Homo sapiens: one gene and its partners. The protein of the gene in region 1 purifies or fractionates together with the protein of each later gene. This does not show direct contact. Each region holds a gene or a part of one and is shown on either strand. Other genes may lie near its edges.

Evidence for each region.
Region 2: the proteins of TH (region 1) and RELL1 purify together in Homo sapiens (affinity purification with mass spectrometry; 2 studies listed by BioGRID and IntAct, with this or other methods). This does not show direct contact.
Region 3: the proteins of TH (region 1) and DNAJC12 purify together in Homo sapiens (affinity purification with mass spectrometry; 2 studies listed by BioGRID and IntAct, with this or other methods). This does not show direct contact.
Region 4: the proteins of TH (region 1) and TAOK2 purify together in Homo sapiens (affinity purification with mass spectrometry; 2 studies listed by BioGRID and IntAct, with this or other methods). This does not show direct contact.

What each region holds. Positions count from the first base shown.
Region 1 is NC_000011.10:2,168,813-2,176,182, reverse strand, and holds the start of TH (tyrosine 3-monooxygenase), read left to right. Parts: upstream 1-4,367; 5' UTR 4,368-4,396; coding exon 4,397-4,486; coding exon of another isoform or gene 4,487-4,498; intron 4,499-5,412; coding exon of another isoform or gene 5,413-5,493; intron 5,494-6,311; coding exon 6,312-6,533; intron 6,534-7,370. UniProt on the Homo sapiens protein: Catalyzes the conversion of L-tyrosine to L-dihydroxyphenylalanine (L-Dopa), the rate-limiting step in the biosynthesis of catecholamines, dopamine, noradrenaline, and adrenaline. Uses tetrahydrobiopterin and molecular oxygen to convert tyrosine to L-Dopa.
Region 2 is NC_000004.12:37,610,095-37,613,391, reverse strand, and holds the end of RELL1 (RELT-like protein 1 precursor), read left to right. Parts: intron 1-49; 3' UTR 50-2,758; downstream 2,759-3,297. UniProt on the Homo sapiens protein: Induces activation of MAPK14/p38 cascade, when overexpressed. Induces apoptosis, when overexpressed.
Region 3 is NC_000010.11:67,828,189-67,835,188, reverse strand, and holds part of DNAJC12 (dnaJ homolog subfamily C member 12), read left to right. Parts: intron 1-7,000. UniProt on the Homo sapiens protein: Probable co-chaperone that participates in the proper folding of biopterin-dependent aromatic amino acid hydroxylases, which include phenylalanine-4-hydroxylase (PAH), tyrosine 3-monooxygenase (TH) and peripheral and neuronal tryptophan hydroxylases (TPH1 and TPH2).
Region 4 is NC_000016.10:29,983,868-29,988,947, forward strand, and holds the end of TAOK2 (serine/threonine-protein kinase TAO2), read left to right. Parts: intron 1-1,345; coding exon 1,346-1,711; intron 1,712-1,790; coding exon 1,791-1,994; intron 1,995-2,397; coding exon 2,398-4,113; 3' UTR 4,114-4,491; downstream 4,492-5,080. UniProt on the Homo sapiens protein: Serine/threonine-protein kinase involved in different processes such as membrane blebbing and apoptotic bodies formation DNA damage response and MAPK14/p38 MAPK stress-activated MAPK cascade.

The DNA of each region.
Region 1 (7,370 bases):
CATGCTGGCTCTCAAAGATCACAGGGCCACCTGAGCCCTGTGCACACCACAGCCAGGCCATGGCTAGACCCTGCAGAGCCACAGGGCGATGCCTGTCAGCCAGGGGACCCAGAACACCTCCTGGGCTCCTCCCCAGCACATGGCTGGGCTCCTCCAGCAGGCCTGGATTTGGGAAGGGCCCGTGGTGGGCAAGGCTGGTGCTGGGGAGCAGGCCTGGTGGCCTCAGAGACTCGCCCTGTGGGCGGAGCAGCCTCACAGCCAGGTCGAAGTCAGCACTCTGACCCTGCCCCACGCGGGGAGTGGGCACCAGTCCCAGGGCACAGACGTGCTGGGTGATTAATCTGGGTGATTAAGCCTCGGGCTGAGAGGCTGTTGAGAGAGAACACGCTCCATTGTGGAGCTGGCTCAGCATTCCTTACGGCCATGGTGGCAGGGGCTGTAACCACAGGGACGGCGGAAGTGGTGGAGGGTGGTGGGGTATGGAGGGAAGCCCAGAGGGCTCCGTGCAGGAAGGTGGAGCCTGGTGCAATGGAGGGGACAGCAAGGGCTCCTCAGACCTCTGCGGGGCCCCCACTCCCCTGGTCACCTGTTTTGTCTCTGATCTGGCCTGGGTCGGCCCTCACTCCTGGCCCCACCTCATAGCCCCCCCTGGTGGGGCTCCGCTCCAGCCCTTCTCCTTCCCAGGGGCCAGTATGCTGGCCCCAGGGGTCTCTTGGGGCGTGACCTCGGCCTCCAGAGAACCCTGTCCCAGCTCTGCCCTTCCCTCTGGGGTCTCTGTAGATGGGACGCTGGTCACAGCAGCCTGTCTGATTTGTTCCCTGTGGCCTAGGTTCCTGAGCCCCACAGTGCCAGGGGATGGATGCCACCGGATCTTTGAAAGACCAGTGTCAGGCCGGGCGCAGTGGCTCACGCCTGTAATCCCAGCACTTTGGGAGGCCGAGGTGGGCGGATCACGAAGTCAGGAGATCGAGACCATCCTGGCTAACACAGTGAAACCCCGTCTCCACTAAAAATACAAAAAGTTAGCTGGGCGTGGTGGTGGGCGCCTGTAGTCCCAGCTACTTGGGAGGCTGAGGCAGGAGAATGGCGTGAACCGGGGAGGCGGAGCTTGCAGTGAGCCGAGATCGCGCCATTGCACTCCAGCCTGGGTGACAGAGCGAGACTCGGTCTCAAAAAAAAAGAAAAAAAGGAAAGACCAGTGTCTTGGGAGTTGGGAAACCTGGGCTGGAGACTCACTGCATGACCCCTGAGAAGTTGCACCTCAGAACCTCAGTCCTCGCATCTGCAGAATGGGTCTGTGAACACCTCAGCTGCCCGAACGTGGATGCCGCAGGCTGACCCAGCACTGAGCTCTACCAAGACCAGGGGCCAGCCGTGTGCTCCCTCCAGGCCTGTGCCCAGCGTGGAGAGGCCTCGTCCCGTGGGCGCTGGAGTGGAGCCTTCCTGGTGTTTGTGGACATCTCTGGAGAGGGCCAGAGGCAGGTGGGTGACACGGGGCATGGCTCAATCATGGGTGGTCCAGACTGGAGAGGTACCCTCGGGCTGGGAGCGGGGAGGCTGGCCAGGGTAGACTTTTGGGGCCTCCATGGATACCCTCACCATCTGGAATCGGAGAGGGGCACGGCACAAAGGAGGGCGGGGCCAGGGCCAGGACTGGAGTCGGGGGCACCTCTGTGCCAACAGGGGCCTTGGATCTGGGGTACAGCATGGTTCCCCGGCCCTGAAGGGGCTGGCGTGTGGGACAGGCTTCCCAGGAATGGATAGGCAGGGATGGATGCTGCCTGATTGGGGCGGGAGGCTGGAGGCAGGGCAGGTGCAGGCACCTGAGGGCAGCACTCACCTCCACAGGGGTCCAGGGGCCTCCCCAGCCTCAGCACCTGGCCTGGGCTCCTGCCTCCAGAGAGCCTGGCCCCAAGGAAGAGTCTAGTAAGCTTAGTTCCCATCGGGCTTCCATGAAAGCACAACTGGCCCGGCAGGAAACCGAATTAAAAAGCAATATTTGTATCAGTGGAAGACATTTGCTGAAAGGTTAAATCCACATCCGGCAGTGTGGGCCATGAGCCTCCGGCGTGGTGTTCATCAGGCATGTCTCTCCTCCTGGCCTGGGCACCTGAGCACTGGGGCCGCCCTGGGCAGAGCTGGGGCGGGGTGCTGGGGGGCCTGGAGCTGCCTCACCGAGGGATCCTCAGCAGCCGACCCTGGGGGAGGCAAATGAGACTCTTTCTGGGGACCTTGAGGGGAGCTCGGGGGAGCCATGCAGAGCTTCACCAGGCCTGGACACTGGGCATGGAGGCTGGGCCACCCAAGGGCCATCACCAGGGACTCAGGTGGGTGGGCCTCAGCCCTGGGTGACAGAAGCTCACGGGCCGCAGGGCGAGGCCAGAGGCTGAGCCTTCAGGCTGAGGTCTTGGAGGCAAATCCCTCCAACGCCCTTCTGAGCAGGCACCCAGACCTACTGTGGGCAGGACCCACAGGAGGTGGAGGCCTTTGGGGAACACTGTGGAGGGGCATAGCATCTCCGAGAGAGGACAGGGTCTGCACTGGGTGCTGAGAGACAGCAGGGGCCGAGCGGTAGGCTTCCCTGCCCCCAGGGATGTTCCAGAGGAGCGCAAGGGAGGGGCATTAATATCGTGGCAAGAAAGGGCAGGCATTGCAGAGTGAGCAGCGACGGAACTGGGTTTTGTGGGATGCATAGGAGTTCACCCGGATAAGAGGTGGGTGAGGAATGACACTGCAAACCGGGGATCACGGAGCCCCAAATCCTTCTGGGCCAGGAAGTGGGAAGGGTTGGGGGGTCTTCCCTTTGCTTTGACTGAGCACTCAGCCTGCCTGCAGAGGGCAGCGAGGAGCCACGGAGGGGTGTGGGACAGGGATGCCATGGCTGAAGCAGTTTTAGGAAAGGTCCCAGGGGCTATTGTTGAAGAGAGAACGGGGAGCGGGGAGTCCCACAGCTGACAGGAGCAGAGTGGGCCCTGAGAGATGCCAGCTCTGGCTGCCACAGTGACCAGCCGGGGTAGGCCTTCGAGAAGTCAGGGAGCGTCTAGGGCTTCTGGCTCCTGCTGGGCCCAGGGTGTCATCTTGGGCTGCCAACACCAGAAAGCCCAGCAGATACAGGAAGCCCCAAGCCCTGTCGGAAACGGTTCTTCTCCAGGAGGGACAGCGGTGGCAGCGTTCAGCCGCAGGCCATGCACTCTGGGGCCACGTCCTTCCCTCTGTACAGTCCAGCATTGTCAAGGCAGGCTCTGGCCATCTCTGCTGACCCCAGAGGGATGGGGAGGCCTCCCCTTCCACCAGAAGGGCCAGAAGCCACCCTGGGCAGGGGCATCACTCTCCCTGGGTGGGGCAGCGGCTGGGAGCAGGAGGTGCCAGTGGGCGTGGGCTGGATGCGGGTGCCTGCGGGGCGGACATGGAACTTGGGGGAGGCTCTAGGCTGGGGTTGTCCTCAAGGGAGTTCTCAGGTCACCCCAGGGTCACCCTCAACCCGGGGCCTGGTGGGGTAGAGGAGAAACTGCAAAGGTCTCTCCAAGGGGAAGGCATCAGGGCCCTCAGCACTGAGGGACGTGCGTGCTCTTTAAAGAAGGGGCCACAGGACCCCGAGGGAAGCCAGGAGCTAGCAGTGGGCCATAGAGGGGCTGAGTGGGGTGGGTGGAAGCCGTCCCTGGCCCTGGTCGCCCTGGCAACCCTGGTGGGGACTGTGATGCAGGAGGTGGCAGCCATTTGGAAACGCGTGGCGTCTCCTTAGAGATGTCTTCTTCAGCCTCCCAGGGTCCTCCACACTGGACAGGTGGGCCCTCCTGGGACATTCTGGACCCCACGGGGCGAGCTTGGGAAGCCGCTGCAAGGGCCACACCTGCAGGGCCCGGGGGCTGTGGGCAGATGGCACTCCTAGGAACCACGTCTATGAGACACACGGCCTGGAATCTTCTGGAGAAGCAAACAAATTGCCTCCTGACATCTGAGGCTGGAGGCTGGATTCCCCGTCTTGGGGCTTTCTGGGTCGGTCTGCCACGAGGTTCTGGTGTTCATTAAAAGTGTGCCCCTGGGCTGCCAGAAAGCCCCTCCCTGTGTGCTCTCTTGAGGGCTGTGGGGCCAAGGGGACCCTGGCTGTCTCAGCCCCCCGCAGAGCACGAGCCCCTGGTCCCCGCAAGCCCGCGGGCTGAGGATGATTCAGACAGGGCTGGGGAGTGAAGGCAATTAGATTCCACGGACGAGCCCTTTCTCCTGCGCCTCCCTCCTTCCTCACCCACCCCCGCCTCCATCAGGCACAGCAGGCAGGGGTGGGGGATGTAAGGAGGGGAAGGTGGGGGACCCAGAGGGGGCTTTGACGTCAGCTCAGCTTATAAGAGGCTGCTGGGCCAGGGCTGTGGAGACGGAGCCCGGACCTCCACACTGAGCCATGCCCACCCCCGACGCCACCACGCCACAGGCCAAGGGCTTCCGCAGGGCCGTGTCTGAGCTGGACGCCAAGCAGGCAGAGGCCATCATGGTAAGAGGGCAGGTAGGTGCCCGGCGGCCGCAGTGGACCGGAGCCCAGGGCTGGTGCCAGCTGCCTCTGCTACTCCCCAGCCTGGCTGGCAGCCCCAGGCTCAGGGTCCATGCAAACCCCTGGGACGCGGCGTGGATGTGGAGGCCTGGGCACAGCGGCATCCCCTGTGCCTGGTGTTTGAGTCCCTGTTGGGGGAGGGTGAGGTGATGCCTGTCCCTGTGTGTGCCCCTCTTAGGCCGACCTCTCTCGGGGGTCGTGTGGGTCTCTGTGTCTTGTTTCATCTTGAATCTTAACGATCGGAATGTGGAAACAAATCCATCCAAAAAATCCAAGATGGCCAGAGGTCCCCGGCTGCTGCACCCAGCCCCCACCCTACTCCCACCTGCCCCTGCCTCCCTCTGCCCCAGCTGCCCTAGTCAGCACCCCAACCAGCCTGCCTGCTTGGGGAGGCAGCCCCAAGGCCCTTCCCAGGCTCTAGCAGCAGCTCATGGTGGGGGGTCCTGGGCAAATAGGGGGCAAAATTCAAAGGGTATCTGGGCTCTGGGGTGATTCCCATTGGCCTGTTCCTCCCTTATTTCCCTCATTCATTCATTCATTCATTCATTCATTCACCATGGAGTCTGTGTTCCCTGTGACCTGCACTCGGAAGCCCTGTGTACAGGGGACTGTGTGGGCCAGGCTGGATAATCGGGAGCTTTTCAGCCCACAGGAGGGGTCTTCGGTGCCTCCTTGGGCACTCAGAACCTTGGGCTCCCTGGCACATTTAAAATGGGTTTTTATTTATGGACCTTGATTGAAATGTGGTGTGAGTTGTAGCAGTGTCATTTCCAGGTACCTTCTCAGGGACACAGGGCGCCCTCCCCCGTCCTCCCCCGCCCTCCCCTACCCTCCCCCACCAGGCTCCCCATCAGGCATCCCCTCCCCAGGGCGCCCCGGGGCCCAGCCTCACAGGCTCTCCGTGGCCTGGAACTGCAGCCCCAGCTGCATCCTACACCCCCACCCCAAGGGTAAGTAAGAGGGGACTCTGGGAGGGGCTTCTGCTGCTCCCCTTCATGTTCCACAACCCTGGAAGCTCAGGATGAAGCTGATTCTTCTCTTACAAGGGGCCCAGAGCCTTCTTGGGAGTTCAGCTCCAAGGGATGAGCCCCAGGTGTCTGCCAAGTCCCCCTCTGTCCAGGCCTGGGACGGCTCTGGGATCGAGGGGTCAGAGGCGCTGAGCCCAGGGAGAGACACCTGCGCCCAGAGCTATGACAAAGGGTGGAGGGATGACAAGGCAGCCAGGAGCGGGCGCCTGCGGGGTGGCACAGAGGGGCAGGGCCCGAGGACAGGTGTCCTGATGGGAGTGTGAGAAAGGGTCCCCTGTGCGGCAGCCAGGAGGGTAGGGGGGTTGTTCACTGGGGCCCTGTGGGGGCAGCTCCTTCCTGAGCTGCCGTTCCCTCCCCGGCAGCCGATGCCACTGTCCATCAAGACATCGCCCTCTTCCCATCACTAATCCAGTTAGCGCCTGGCCTGGGGATGAGTGACACAGCGTCTCTGTCTGTCTGCTCGCCACAGAGTGGGGAGCAGGCGAGCACCTTCCCAGCCCCCACTCCTCCCCCACCACCACTGCTTCTGACTGGGCTGCCCCCATCGGGAAGGGCGTGCAATGCCCGCAGGCACCTCGGCTAGCATCTGCCCCAGCAGGCACACAGTAGGCGCTCAAAAACGTGCTCTCATCCCCTGCCTCTGTGTGCCATCAGCGCTGCCCGACTGTGGGACCAGCTGTGGGTGGAGGTCCCCGGGTCTCAGCAGGTGGAGGAGGCATGGGTGCCCCTTGTCCCCACAGTCCCCGCGGTTCATTGGGCGCAGGCAGAGCCTCATCGAGGACGCCCGCAAGGAGCGGGAGGCGGCGGTGGCAGCAGCGGCCGCTGCAGTCCCCTCGGAGCCCGGGGACCCCCTGGAGGCTGTGGCCTTTGAGGAGAAGGAGGGGAAGGCCGTGCTAAACCTGCTCTTCTCCCCGAGGGCCACCAAGCCCTCGGCGCTGTCCCGAGCTGTGAAGGTGTTTGAGGTGAGCTGGTGGCCTTCGTGTCCCTGGGGCAAGTTCACCTGTGGGTGGGGCTGTGTGGGCTGAGTTCCTGACCCCTCTATAGCAGAGGTGCAGCTGCCCAGGCCCCCGAGGCCGGCACAGGATGCAGCAGGGGAGTCTCAGGCCTCAGCTCAGCCCCCATGGCATCTAGCCACACCCCCGTGTTTTTGAGGGATCCTGAGCCCACCCCTAGGGCTGAGGCTACCAAGCCCCACTGTGCCTCTTGCCTTGCCCATCCCCTGGATCCCCCTCACCCACCATTTCCCACGTGGGGGGCTCCCAGCAGGGCAGCACAAGAGGCAGGGGCAGGGCAGTGTGCCCTCTCCCACCCACCCAGCACAGTGGCTCAGGTGACCACTGATTGCATTAGTCACTCCGGCCCCACTGTGCCCCGGGAGGCAGGTGACCCAGCTCCCGGAAGAAGCTCCCAAATGACATTAAAGCCAGACTCCCCGCCCCCCAGCTCCCAGAGCCAGTTTTGTGGCCCGAGGGCCACTGCGACCCACCGCCCTTGTTGCTAGGCAACAGGAGGTGGGGGTGGAGCGGACCCTTCTGGCCAGTGTCCTGGACGCTCAGGGGCCAGTGAGACTCAGGGCCCATCCTACAAACCTGGATGAGGCCACCAGGGTTGGGGGCACCTTCTGACCAGTGGCTGAGGAGCCGGACTGTGTGGCATGGCCTTGGGACACACACACCGAGCCGCCCAGAACCAGGTTAAGCCTCAAGCGGTGACAACTCCTGGTTAGGCACGTAACACAAAATCCAACTTGCCAGTGGCAAACCCTGGCCTGGTGGCCGACAGCTGACCTGAGCCTGGAA
Region 2 (3,297 bases), on another chromosome or scaffold:
TGATGCTTACCCTTGGTTAAAGATCTACATTTTTTGTTTTCTCTTGCAGCAATGACTTGACTTGAAGAGCTCTAAGAGACTGAAAACTTATATGAAGTTGCCTTGGGAATATTTTTATATATTTTATACAGTTTCTATCATGGAGTCAGCAGGCACGTGGATAAAACCTAAAAGGGAATATTATTGCTGTGCCATATACAGAATTCAGTTTGCTTTGAAACAAGTTTTGGTTGAAAGAGTCTGTTGAAAATTTTATTATACTTCCAGGGAAGGAAAGAGCTGTTTTTATCTTCTTAACCACTCCCAGCCTCTACTCTTCCCAGCCCCTAATCCCAGGCCTTGGTGTACACACTGTAGTTTTTCCATTATGATGAGTATGTGCAGTGATACTATTCATGTACAGTCTGAGCTTATGCTCAGGGGTGTGTGTGTATATGTGTATGCATGTGTGCACGTGAGTGTGTGTTTCTTTTTCCAGTTCCTGCATCCTATTTTGACACTGGTTGTAAGAAGATCTTGATACATACAGGTTAGCTGTTACAAAAGATAAAAGATGAATCTTCAGTGGTAAAAGCTCAGTGGAAATAATCTAGTTAGCCCTGAGGAGTTGATTCCCCAAGGGACCATGGAGTCAGATGGGACCAGATGCTAGACTTTGGATTCCTTGACCACAAATTCAGCATTAACTCCTGCCACCACCATGTCACTCCTACAGCACTTACACATTTTGAGAAGGTTTTTTTTTTTTTTTTTTTGAGGCAGAGTCTCGCTGTGTCCCCTAGGCTGGAGTGCAGTGGCACAATCTCCACTCACCTCAATCTCCACCTCCCCAGGTTCAAGCGATTCTCCTGCCTCAGCCTCCCAAGTAGCTGGGATTACAGGCATGCACCACCACGCTCGACTAATTTTTGTATTTTTAGTAGAGACGGGGTATCACTATATTGGTCAGGCTGGTCTTGAACTCCTGACCTCAGGCGATCTACCCGCCTCGGCCTCCCAAAGTGCTGGGAATATAGGCGTGGGCCACTGCACCCGGTTTTTTGTTTTTTTTTGTTTTTTTTTTTTTTTTAACCTTTAGCTGAGCGATTCTTGGTTAATCCATTGAATAAAGGAGAAAATGGTTGAAAGTCACACACACACAAATTTGTTTGGACAACCCAAGGCCAAAACAAAAGAACCCTGCTTCTCTCTTTTTTTTTTTTTTTTTTTTTTTTTGAGGCGGAGTCTCGCTCTGTCGCCCAGGCTGGAGTGCAGTGGCACGATCTCAGCTCACTGCAAGCTCCACCTTCTGAGTTCACGCCATTCTCCTGCCTCAGCCTCCTGAGTAGCTGGGACTACAGGTGCCCACCACCACGCTTGGCTTATTTTTTTTGTATTTTTAGGAGAGACGGGGTTTCACCGCATTAGCGAAGATGGTCTCGATCTCCTGACCTCGTGATCCACCCGCCTCGGCCTCCCAAAGTTCTGGGATTACAGGCTTGAGCCACTGCGCCCGGCCTAGAACCCTGCTTCTCATATAAGATGGGCCTGCACCTACCTCTGGCATGTTTTTCTTTGTGTATTTCCTGTTTTTCATCCTGTAACTAATGCTCATTATTTAAAACACTCCAGTTACTTTTCCCTTTAGGCCTGGCAAACTTTTCTTTTTCTTTTTTTTTTTTATAACTGTACATTTTACAAAACACCTGAAAGGACCCAGAGGCATAAATAGTATTACATGATTTATGGTAGCTCTGGGGTGAGCTGTGGGGGAGGCCAGTTACAAGGTCTCCAAGACCCGCCTCCATGTCAGTGTTGGGGGGTGCCTTGAGCACTTCTTTTATTTCATATAGGAAAATGCACATCTTTCATTTGTCTCCCAAAAGATGATTTCCATAAAAATATACTTCAAAGTATTTACTGTACATAGACTTCAATGATTTTATTTCCAGCATCAAACTAAACATTTCTAACCTTTTAAATAAATGGGGAATTTAGTTTCATGAGAATTTTTACTGACAACTAATAAACACTGTATGTGTACATATTCATATACACTGTGGACTGGAGAAAGTCAGTATGGAAATAAATTTCACTGAGATCCAGAAAGTAGCAATATAGGACTTTTAGGGGTATGTATTAGTGTAAATAATATATGTGCAGTCTAGGCTAATCATTTTAATTAAAAACAAATAAGCATACTTTTTTGCTTTAAAAATATGCCCTCAAAATGGTGGGGGATAAAATGTAAGATATTCTTTAGCTTTAATTATTTTTCCATCTTATTCAAGTCAGAGCACTTTTTTTTAAATAGCAATACAACAGGCAAGAGAATACTCAAAAATATTTAAAACTGTATTGATACCAAGAGTATGTTTTAAATATTTTCTAATAAATACTTGAGCGGTTTTTGTCTGGCAGGCTTCCAAATTTGCCAAAATTAAGCGTTCAGTATTTTCAACACATACGCTTTTTACTGGTTTATACTGAACTATCTGATGAGAATTCCTGTGTTCCCAAAGCAACTGATGTTTACAGGTCTTGTGTTACTCCTCCTCCTTTCTAAGGATGAGGGAATCCACAACAGACTTTCTCTAGAAAACACTAATGATGGACAACTTTTTGGTGTCATCAATGAGTTGGCTACTACCTTGATGTAAAAATTTGTAAGGAAAATTTTCACCATTTCGAGTGTCAAGTGTATTTTTAACTGTCTGGTTTGTACTTTTATGACTTTTGTACTACCAAAGCGGAGTTAAAAATAAAAATGTTAAACGCAGTGTGTTGTCTTGTGGGTGATCCAATTATTGGCGCCTTGTACACTGGAAATACAGTCGTGGCAGTATAATTATTGAGCTTAATTTTTTACAGTGCTGAATTTCTTGTGTCTTGAAATATCAAGTGATCACTTGGCTGACTTTCCTCATGAGATTTCCCCTCCTGCAGTACCCCTTCCCCTAACACAGGCATACTTTGGAGATACTGTGGGTTCAGCCCCGGCCTACTGCAGTAAAGCAAATATTGCAATCAAGCCAGCCACATGAGCTTTTTGGTTTCCCACTGCATATAAAAAAGTTATATTTATACTATACTATAGTCTATTAAGTATATGCAATAATATTCTGTCAAAAAACATACATACCTTAATTTAAAATACTTTTTATTGCTAAAAAAAAATACGATAATCTGAGCCTTCAGCAAGTCATAATCTTTTTGCTGCTGCAGGATCTTGCCTCAATGTTGAAGGCTACTGACCAGGGTGGTGGTTACTGAAGGTTGGGGTGGCTGTGGCAATTTCTTAAAATAACACAGTGATAA
Region 3 (7,000 bases), on another chromosome or scaffold:
AATTGAATTGAGACACCCACATAATACTTTTGCTTTGGTATATAGTTCTTACAATTTAAAGTTTGTGCTAGAAATTGATTAAAGTAAAATTATGTATTTTCTAATGGTTCTAGAGCAGTAATCCTGAAGCTTTTCCTTCTCAGAGAGTTTTTAAAATTATCTTTCAGAAATTGAAAATACAACCATGAAAACAAGCAATGAGACTAATTTTCTAGTTTACATAATGACATATATAAATTATGGGAGGATTTCCATGTTATATAGAAAACAATATATTCCCCATTTCAAAACAATTTAACAAAGATTGATTCCAAGACAGTTAGCCTTTCTCCCTATATTGGATTTTTTTTTTAAATTTTTGTTTCTTTGAGATGAAGTCTCACTGTGTTGCCCAGGCTGGAGTGCAGTGGCAGGATCTCAGCTCACTGCAGCCTCCTGGGTTCAAGTGATTCTCCTGCTTCAGCCTCCTGAGTAGCAGGGATTATACGTGCATGCCACTATGCCCAGCTAATTTTTGTATTTTTGTACAGATGAGCTTTCACCATGTTGTCCAGGCTGGCCTTGAACTCCTGACCTCAAGTGATCCGCCGCCTTGGCCTCCCAAAGTGTTGGGATTACAGGCATGAGCCACCGCGCCCGGCCTCTATTCCTCAGTTTTCTAACCTGTAAATGGAAGTAAATAGTACCCACCTCACAGAGTTGTGGGGATTAAATAATACGTGATATATAAAGTACTTTGAACAGTGCCTGGTGCAGAGCGCTAAGTTGTGGTGGTTGTGGTTGTGGCTGTTGTTTTGGCCCCCACAGTGTTACTGTGCACTTGGAACTTAGTACACTTATCCTATCCTTGAGTTTGCATTATTTTTAAGATGTTTTATTTTGCAATAATTTTTGACTTACAGAAAAGTTGTAAAAATAGTACAACAGAGTTCCTATATACCCTTAACCCAGCTTCCCTTTATGTTAACATCATACCTAATGAAAGTATAATGATCAAAATCAGAAATTAAAAAAAATTATAGCTCTGAGGCATTTTATTATAAAAGCTTGGTACTCATATACATAAACTAAAATGAACTTAAAATTCATCATACATTTACTTCATTTTTTAGCTTGACCTTCTAGTAAATTTCTAGCTTCACTGATTTTGGCTGCTATGATTTAAGAGTATAATTTATCAATGAGCATCTCTTATTTTCCCTTTTTTGGCAGTAGGGCTTACCCCTAGCATTAATGCTGCTTCTTGTTTTGTCATTTTGGGTTCAAACTCACCTCAGTAATAGCCACCACTGAAGGCAGATTTTGATAGACTTTGAAAAACTTGCTTTACTTGAGGCTCCATGTGCTCCATGGCTTGCAAAACATAATGGCCTGCAAATCCTGCAGCAGCAATGGTCAGTCCAACTGCTACCATTGTACTGGCCATGGCTATAGCTGGGCTCCCTTGCCTCTACCGAGAGCCTGGATCATCCCAGCCCAGAGATCATGGCCCAAAACTGCACACCTTTACCAGAGTGACGCAGCCACCGATCGCAAGCACAAACCACCAAAAAATCAGAAAATTAACATTGCTATAGTTAACCCTACCATGGTCCAGCAAACATTTTTTTGTAAAGGACTAGATAGACAGAGTCAGGACTAGAATGAGGCAAGTAGGGTGTGTAGGATGCAAAATTTAAGGAGGCACTAACATTTAGGGTTGCGCATGTACAGAAATTTGAGAGAGACAGAGAGAGAGAGAGAGAGAGAGGGAGAGGGAGAGAGAGAGGATATTTCCTTAGACCTAGGTGTCCTGCTTGCCTCACCTAATGCTGATCCTGGCATAGCAAATATTTTAGGCTTTGCAGGCCTTACAGTCTCTGTCCTAACTACTCAGCTCTGCCATTGGAGAAAACAGCCATAGACAATATAAGTGAATGATCTTGGCTGTCTTCCAATAAAACTTTAATTAAAAAACAGGCAGCAGCAGGCCAGAGTCAATCAATCCCTGATCTAAATTATAAGTCTTATCTAATTTCATCAGTTTTCCTAATAATGCCCTTTTTCTGTTCTAGGATCCAAGCCAGGATCCCTTATTACGCTTAACCCTTAATGACCTCCAATCTGATGCTTTCTTCTACCTTCTTTGTCTTTCATGACCTGGACAGTATGAAGACTACTGTCAGTATTTTGTAGAATGTCCCTCAATTTGACTTTGATATTTTCTCATGATTAGATTGAGGTTATGCATTTTTGGAAAGAACTCCTCAGAAGTGATGTTGTGCCTTTCTTAGTATCTCATGTGGGGGTGCATGAAATGGATGTGCTTTATTGACCTTGAGCACTTCGTTAAGGTGATGTCTGTCAGGTGTCTTCTGCTAGGTTTTTCCAAGGTAGGGTTATTATTTTTCCTTTTGTAATTAACAAATATCTTGGGGAAGGTACTTTGAGACTGTCCTGTTTCTTCTCAAACTTTTACTCACTAAGTTTAGCATCCTTCAGTGGATCTTGCCTGTAACAGTTACTACTATGGTGTTTGCCTAATGGTGACTTTCTTTTTCTCATTAATTTTACATTTATTAGTATTCTACAGTAAGGAAATTCTTCAGTAAGGAAAAACTATCCCTTCTCCCACATTTATTTGTTTATTTGGCTTAGTTTTATCACTATCAATTAATAGTTATTGTATTTTAAGTGTTATAACCCAAATATTACCATTATTTATTTTGTGTCTCAAATTGTTTCTATGCCTCATGACTTAATTAATTATCATTTGATTAGAGTAATGTAGGAGGATCTCTCATTTATTTCAGGGATATTGCTAATATCTGGAATTTTGTGGGAAAAATCTAGTTTTAAACTGAGTGAATTAAAATAATATATATCAATTAAATCAGTATTAAAATGAATCTTCTTTTCTTTCTTTTCTTTTTTTTTTTTTTTTGAGATGGAGTTTCACTCTTGTTGCCCAGGCTGGAGTGCAATGACGCAATCTGGGCTCACTGCAACCTTCGCCTCCCGGGTTCAAGCAATTCTCCTGCCTCAGCCCCCCGAGTAGCTGGGATTACAGGCATGCGCCACCACACCCAGCTAATTTTTTGTATTTAGTAGAGATGGGGTTTCACCATGTTGGTCAGGCCGGTCTCAGACTCCTGACCTCAGGTGATCTGCCCACCTCGGCCTCTCAAAGTGTTGGGATTACAGGCGTAAGCCACTGTGCCCAGCCAAATCTTCTCTTTTCTGCAGCACATTTTGCATCATATGAATTTCCATCACTGGAATCAATTCACTCTTAATGAATTAGCCATAATTTTCAGAAAGCTCCTATTACACTATAGTTATGTTACTTGAAGAACATCTGTCAGTCTATGATCAAGTATTTATTGAACATTTCCTGTTGGGCCAGTACTAGAAGTGACATAGGGTGGGGAACAAAACAAAACAAAACAAAAAGGTGAGACATGATGCTAGTGTATAAAGAACCTGGTATCCAATTGAGGAGCCAAAGCTAATACACAGGAAACAATTTGAGAACAATTAAGTATTGTGCTCTGTACTGTCTATAAGTGCAGCAGAAATTAAAGAAAGAATATCTGAATAGACTTCAGAAAGAGATGGGGCTTGAAATGGCCTTACTAGATGGCCATAATTTTAATGCACTGTGGGAGAGACAGGGCATTTGTATGGCTAGGAAATCTTGGAGAATATTCATCCAAGTGGGAATTGGATTAGTCTCCATGGCACACTGGAGTATTTCCTTGCTTAGACAAAAATATTTTGCTAGCAGAATATGGAAAAGATAAGTTTCTAAGTTTTAAAATTTAAGTTCTAAAATTAATATATGTTCAATAAGGAAATGTGGAATACAAAGAAAGCACAAATAAAAATGTTAACCTACATGTTTAACATTTTGGAGTATGACTTATACATGTTAATTATCTGTGCATATATGCTATATCTGTATATGTATATAAATAAGTAAATGCATATGTGTATATGTATGTACGTATGTATGTATTTTTGAGACAGATTCTCACCCTGTGGCCCAGACTGGAGTGCAATGGTGCGATCTCAGCTCACTGCAACCTCTGCCTCCCAGGCTTAAGCGATTCTTGTGTCTCAGCCTCCCAAGTAGCTGGGACTACAGGCACGTGCTACCACACCCGGCTAATTTTTTGTATCTTTAGTAGAGATGAGGTTTCACCATGTTGGTCAGCCTGGTCTCCAATTCCTGACCTCGTGATCCGCCCACCTTGGCCTCCCAAAGTGCTGGGATTACAGGCGTGAGCCACCACACCTGGCCTATGTGTATGTATTTATATGTGTATTTTTGTATGTATTTGGAGTCAGACTGCATGGGTTCAGTTCCTAGATGTGCTACTTATTAGCTGTGTGACCTTGGGAGAATTCCTTAATTTTTCTATGTCTTGATTTCCTAATCTGCAAAATGAGAATAATGATAGTATTAACCTCATACAGTTGTGGGAATTAAATGAAACATTCTATGTAAAGTGCTTAGAAAAGTGCCTGGCACATATTAAGTATCAAAAAATTTATTTATTTATTTATTTATTTATTTATTTATTTATTTATTTATTTTTTGAGACGGAGTCTTGCTCTGTCGCCCAGGCTGGAGTGCAGTGGCGGGATCTCAGCTCACTGCAAGCTCCGCCTCCCGGGTTCACGCCGTTCTTCTGCCTCAGCCTCCTGAATAGCTGTGATTACAGGCGCCTGCCACCACGCCCAGCTAATTTTTTATATTTTTAGTAGAGACGGGGTTTCACTGTGTTAGCCAGGATGGTCTCAATCTCCTGACCTCGTGATCCGCCCGCCTCAGCCTCCCAAAGTGCTGGGATTACAAGAGTGAGCCACAGCGCCCGGCCTATTTATTTATTTTTTGAGACGGAGTCTTGCTCTGTCACTCAGGCTGGAGTGCAGTGGCGCGATCTCAGCTCACTGCAACCTCCGCCTCCCAGGCTCAAGCGATTCTTGTGTCTCAGCCTCCCAAGTAGCTGGGACTACAGGCCATGCCAGGCTAATTTTTTAATTTTTAGTAGAGACAGGGTTTTGCCATTTGGCAATTGGCCAGGCTGTTCTTGAACTCCTGACCTCAGGTGATCTGCCCGCCTCAGCATCCCAAAGTGCTGGGATTACAGGTGTGAGCCACTGCACCCAGGTCAATAAATTTAAAATGATAATAATTATCATTATTATATACATATATAGTTACATAATCCCTTTTGAGATAAGACATGGATTTAAATTGCACATAATACTTACATATTATTATATGCAGTATAACATAATATATTGCACATATCTTACCTTTTCTCATAGAAATATTTAAATTTTCTCAGGTTGTTAAAAATCTTTTATGACAAGATAATTTTTTAAATGAGTAAAGTATTCTAACCTACAGTTACATTACAATCAACTATAACAAACATCCTATTATTGGACATATAGGTTGTAAGAATTAAAGAAAGAGGAGAGAAACACAAAGGGCGGCTTGACAGTCAACAGGGACAGATTTGTTTATTTATTTTTATTTTTTATTTTTTATTTTTTTGAGACGGAGTCTCACTCTGTCGCCCAGGCTGGAGTACAGTGGCGCAATCTCGGCTCACTGCAAGCTCCGCCTCCCAGATTCACGCCATTCTCCTTCCTCAGCCTCCGGAGTAGCTGGAACTACAGGCGGCCGCCACCACGCCCGGCTAATTTTTTTGTATTTTTAGTAGAGACAGGGTTTCACTGTTTTAGCCAGGATGGTCTCGATCTCTTGACCTCGTGATCCACCCGCCTCGGCCTCCCCAAGTGCTGGGATTACAAGCGTGAGCCACCGCACCCGGCCTGACAGGTTTATTTTGAATAAACCTGAGAGGGGCGGCTGGCTGAGTTAGGTTAGAGACACACTCTCCTACAGACTAAGAGTTTCTAAGGCTTCAGGGTGGGAGAGTTTATCAGAGGCTTGGACTGCTTCTCTGTCTCTTTGTTGTGCTTTTCTGGGAGGGAGAGTTGTGTGTCTGTTCCCATCCATCTTTCTGCAGCTGTAGGCATACCCCGCCCGAGTCTGCTTTTTGCTTCCCTATCTTGGTACACCTGAAGGGAAAGGAATGTGCTTATTAAGTAAGGCTCACTGTTTTACTGGGGCCCATTTTGTGAGGGTGAAGTTTGGCAGTTGCTCCAGAGACTTTCCCCCCACCTCCCTCTGCGCCCGAGCTGTCTTATTTGTGTTTTACTGTCTGCTCTTTCTGGCTGCTTGTAGTTCGAACAGAAGTGATTTCCTTGAAATGCATGAGACTAGAAAGGGAACTGGAATTTAAAGTGGCGATGTCTGTCTGAGTTGATGGTGCTCTTGCTCTATCATAGGTTTTTGTTTAAAATTTATATTTTATTCTTGGACCTTCTTACAGCTATTCTTTTCTTACCTCTGATTATCTCCTTAGACAAATTCCTAGAATTGGAATTGTTGAATCAAAGGCTAGGAAATAAATTAAAGGCTCTTCATATATATGTGTGTATATATATATATATAGAGAGAGAGAGAGAGAGAAAATAGAATATTTAACACTTTAAAATTTAAAAACAAGTCTAGATCTCAGTTTTATTTGTTATATAAGCAGGTTATGGTGACTGATGGTTAAAGACAGCACCCAGGAAGAGGAAACACATAGTTAATTACAGTTCCTAACAGGAAGTCATCTTTTCCTATTATTCGAAGGTGTTCTCAGAAGTTTAACAAAGAAAATAATAGTTATTAGTCTGGGTTTTATACATATGCCTATCTAATACAGCCTGACTTTGATTGTAAAAGTGAAGACATTCCTTATGAGAATTGACTAAGGATGACATGGAGCTGATCTACATATAGAGAGATAGATACACACATATATCTATATATAGAGAGATAGATACACACACATATATATACACACACATACAAACATATATGTCTCAATTTTTTTCAAGAAAGTCTATACCTATTTACATCCTCGCCAGCAGAGCATGAATGTTAATTTCT
Region 4 (5,080 bases), on another chromosome or scaffold:
GTGTTTCTAGCTTGGCAAACTCTTACTCCGTTTTTGTGGCCTGACTTAACTGACATCTCCTGGGTTGCCTTCCCAGGCTCCTCTGGTGAGTCAGATGCTTCACAGTTGTGTGCTGGGGAAGCCCAGTGCTGGGGGAGCCCTGTGCCTGTGGAGCCCTGTGCTGGGGGTGTCCAGTGCTGGGGAGCCCTGTGCCGGGGGTGCCCTGTGCTTGGGTGGTCCTGAACAGCATCATGATAGGTTTGCCAGATTCTGTGCCCCAGAGGGCAGGGATGGTGTTCAGATATCTGTCTCATGCCAGCAGTTAGCTCTCAGGCTTACACACAGGCCTGTGTTAACCCTCCCAGCCCCCCTGGGAGGGGAAGGGTAAGATCCCATTGGAGAAATGAGGCACCTGTGGCTCAGAGGGGCCACTTGCCCCAGTGCCTTTGGTGGCTCTCTGCTCCTGTAAGCAGGCCCTTAGTCCTCTCCTAAAATCAACTCATGGCAGTCTTTCTCAGTTCACAGGAAAAAGTGTTTAGGCTTTTCATAAAACATAGTTTTTCATCTATGTTTTTAGATCACGTTCCTGCTGAGCTGCATTTGAGCGTCAACAATCCCCTTAGAGGCCACTGATTAAGTCTAGTATGTTCTTATGGCCTCTGCTTGGTGCTGGTTGTGTTCCAACAATTCTTCAGATCCCATGGTGTTGTGCGGTACTGTGCTGAGAGGTCTTGACTGCCAGGGGCTTGGCTGCCGGGACTAGTTTGAGAGCCACTCATAGAGTCAATTGAGAATGAGACCTGAGATCAGACTTTGGATGAAGGTGTCCAAGCCCAGTGTTCTTGTTATTCCAGCATCTTGTGGCCCCGATCCCACCTCAATACCTGGGGAGTGATAGGCCGACCATGTTTGCTGAAGGGGAAGGAAGCCAACACTTATTAGATAGAGTCCGAACTTACCCCACAGCCCCTATGAGGAGGTATTATTTCCCCATTTAACAGATGAGGGAACTGGTGCTTTGAGAAGTTAACTTACTTGAGATCACATGCTTGGTAAGTGGCAAAGCTGGGATTTGATCCCAGGTATGTCTGACTCACTGTTTCAAATTAGTATGGATTGTTCCTACTTTTGTGCCAGGCCCTGTGCTCGCCACCTTTTATCATTCGGCCACACCAACTTGTGATGTAGATAATATCACCATTATCCAGTTGAGGAAACAGGCTAGAGTGGCCGTGTGTGAGGAAGGTGTTAAATGAGAATGAAACCCATGAGTTGAAAACCCATGCTCTTCCCCACGGAAGACCCCTTGTGTTAATTAACTAGGGGCCAGGCTGAGCCCCAGCTCTCACCCTCTCTCCTTCCCCAGGTCAGCCGTCAGATCCAGGAGCATGAGCAGGACTCTGCGCTGCGGGAGCAGCTGAGCGGCTATAAGCGGATGCGACGACAGCACCAGAAGCAGCTGCTGGCCCTGGAGTCACGGCTGAGGGGTGAACGGGAGGAGCACAGTGCACGGCTGCAGCGGGAGCTTGAGGCGCAGCGGGCTGGCTTTGGGGCAGAGGCAGAAAAGCTGGCCCGGCGGCACCAGGCCATAGGTGAGAAGGAGGCACGAGCTGCCCAGGCCGAGGAGCGGAAGTTCCAGCAGCACATCCTTGGGCAGCAGAAGAAGGAGCTGGCTGCCCTGCTGGAGGCACAGAAGCGGACCTACAAACTTCGCAAGGAACAGCTGAAGGAGGTGAGCTAGGGCTGCTTGGGGGCGGAGCCGATGGCGAGCCAGGTGGGTCCTGACCCTGCTTCCCTCTGCACTCGCCCAGGAGCTCCAGGAGAACCCCAGCACTCCCAAGCGGGAGAAGGCCGAGTGGCTGCTGCGGCAGAAGGAGCAGCTCCAGCAGTGCCAGGCGGAGGAGGAAGCAGGGCTGCTGCGGCGGCAGCGCCAGTACTTTGAGCTGCAGTGTCGCCAGTACAAGCGCAAGATGTTGCTGGCTCGGCACAGCCTGGACCAGGACCTGCTGCGGGAGGTAGGCATCCCAATCTCTGTTCCCCTCCCGCTCACTCGTGGATCCCAGGGACCCACCCTTTTCCATTTTCCTCATTCTTGTCTTCTTTCTCCTTGGCCCTCGAGTGTTACAGTTCAGCTTTGCTTCAGTGCCCCTTTTACTTCTCATCCCCAACAGACCCTGCCAGAATTTCCTTAGGCCTCTTTTCCCAGGCCAGGGAGGAGCTTGCCTCCCCTACACCCTCATCTCCTGCCATCCCCAGCTCCCTCTGCCAAGGAGCCCTGGCCCCTCACTTCCTTGATACTGACCAGGCCCTGGGCCCTGTGTTTCTTCCGCCATCCCCAGCTCCCTCTGCCAAGGAGCCCTGGCCTCTCACTTCCTTGATACTGACCAGGCCCCGGGCCCTGCATTTCTTCTGCCTCAGGACCTGAACAAGAAGCAGACCCAGAAGGACTTGGAGTGTGCACTGCTGCTTCGGCAGCACGAGGCCACGCGGGAGCTGGAGCTGCGGCAGCTCCAGGCCGTGCAGCGCACGCGGGCTGAGCTCACCCGCCTGCAGCACCAGACGGAGCTGGGCAACCAGCTGGAGTACAACAAGCGGCGTGAGCAAGAGTTGCGGCAGAAGCATGCGGCCCAGGTTCGCCAGCAGCCCAAGAGCCTCAAAGTACGTGCAGGCCAGCGCCCCCCGGGCCTTCCACTCCCCATTCCTGGGGCTCTGGGCCCACCCAACACAGGCACCCCTATAGAACAGCAGCCCTGCTCACCTGGCCAGGAGGCAGTCCTGGACCAAAGAATGCTTGGCGAGGAGGAGGAAGCAGTTGGAGAGAGAAGGATTCTGGGAAAGGAAGGGGCCACTTTGGAGCCCAAGCAGCAGAGGATTCTGGGGGAAGAATCAGGAGCCCCTAGTCCCAGTCCACAAAAACATGGGAGCCTGGTTGATGAGGAAGTTTGGGGTCTGCCTGAGGAGATAGAGGAGCTTAGGGTGCCCTCCCTTGTACCCCAGGAGAGGAGCATTGTTGGCCAGGAGGAGGCTGGGACATGGAGCTTGTGGGGGAAGGAGGATGAGAGTCTTCTGGATGAGGAGTTTGAGCTTGGCTGGGTCCAGGGCCCAGCACTGACTCCCGTCCCTGAGGAGGAGGAAGAAGAGGAAGAGGGGGCTCCGATTGGGACCCCTAGGGATCCTGGAGATGGTTGTCCTTCCCCCGACATCCCTCCTGAACCCCCTCCAACACACCTGAGGCCCTGCCCTGCCAGCCAGCTCCCTGGACTCCTGTCCCATGGCCTCCTGGCCGGCCTCTCCTTTGCAGTGGGGTCCTCCTCTGGCCTCCTGCCCCTCCTGCTGCTGCTGCTGCTTCCATTGCTGGCAGCCCAGGGTGGGGGTGGCCTGCAGGCAGCGCTGCTGGCCCTTGAGGTGGGGCTGGTGGGTCTGGGGGCCTCCTACCTGCTCCTTTGTACAGCCCTGCACCTGCCCTCCAGTCTTTTCCTACTCCTGGCCCAGGGTACCGCACTGGGGGCCGTCCTGGGCCTGAGCTGGCGCCGAGGCCTCATGGGTGTTCCCCTGGGCCTTGGAGCTGCCTGGCTCTTAGCTTGGCCAGGCCTAGCTCTACCTCTGGTGGCTATGGCAGCGGGGGGCAGATGGGTGCGGCAGCAGGGCCCCCGGGTGCGCCGGGGCATATCTCGACTCTGGTTGCGGGTTCTGCTGCGCCTGTCACCCATGGCCTTCCGGGCCCTGCAGGGCTGTGGGGCTGTGGGGGACCGGGGTCTGTTTGCACTGTACCCCAAAACCAACAAGGATGGCTTCCGCAGCCGCCTGCCCGTCCCTGGGCCCCGGCGGCGTAATCCCCGCACCACCCAACACCCATTAGCTCTGTTGGCAAGGGTCTGGGTCCTGTGCAAGGGCTGGAACTGGCGTCTGGCACGGGCCAGCCAGGGTTTAGCATCCCACTTGCCCCCGTGGGCCATCCACACACTGGCCAGCTGGGGCCTGCTTCGGGGTGAACGGCCCACCCGAATCCCCCGGCTACTACCACGCAGCCAGCGCCAGCTAGGGCCCCCTGCCTCCCGCCAGCCACTGCCAGGGACTCTAGCCGGGCGGAGGTCACGCACCCGCCAGTCCCGGGCCCTGCCCCCCTGGAGGTAGCTGACTCCAGCCCTTCCAGCCCAAATCTAGAGCATTGAGCACTTTATCTCCCACGACTCAGTGAAGTTTCTCCAGTCCCTAGTCCTCTCTTTTCACCCACCTTCCTCAGTTTGCTCACTTACCCCAGGCCCAGCCCTTCGGACCTCTAGACAGGCAGCCTCCTCAGCTGTGGAGTCCAGCAGTCACTCTGTGTTCTCCTGGCGCTCCTCCCCTAAGTTATTGCTGTTCGCCCGCTGTGTGTGCTCATCCTCACCCTCATTGACTCAGGCCTGGGGCCAGGGGTGGTGGAGGGTGGGAAGAGTCATGTTTTTTTTCTCCTCTTTGATTTTGTTTTTCTGTCTCCCTTCCAACCTGTCCCCTTCCCCCCACCAAAAAAAGAAAAAGACAAACACAAATAAAATATCTGAGCGGAACTGTGCCTTTGGCCCAGGCTGCCTCTGTCTGCTTTGTCCTGCCGCCTAGCCTCCCCGGTATGCCCCCAGGCTGACCCTCGGCCCGGCTCCATGACCTCTTCACCCCATCTCCGTTATCTCAGCCCCCTCACTCCTCCAGCCTCATGCTCTCTGCCTTCATAGCTTCATTGCACCATGACCACCACCGGCTCTGGGGTCTGGGCCCCTGTAGAACTTCACCGAACTTCTTGGTCCCACAGAGCGCCTGTTTGCGGGTTCCTTCCAGAGGTCTTAGTTTCCAGGCCCTTGGTCTCCTCATCCCTTGCCTTTTCTCCCAACCATGGCTGCAGGGGACCAAATTGCTCTCCTGCATCAGGCATTACCCTAGTGGGTTGGGGGACGGGGCTGCAGACCCTCCACAGTAGGGGGTGCTGAGCTGGGGGCAACCAGGCGGAGTATGAAGGCTGTGGCAGCAGGATTGAGTGTGGGCCTGGAGTGGGAGCTGAGTGTGTGAGGGGCCGGGCTGGAATGCGGATCTGGTCAGGGTGGTAGCTGCTGGCCGGTTGAACTTGTCA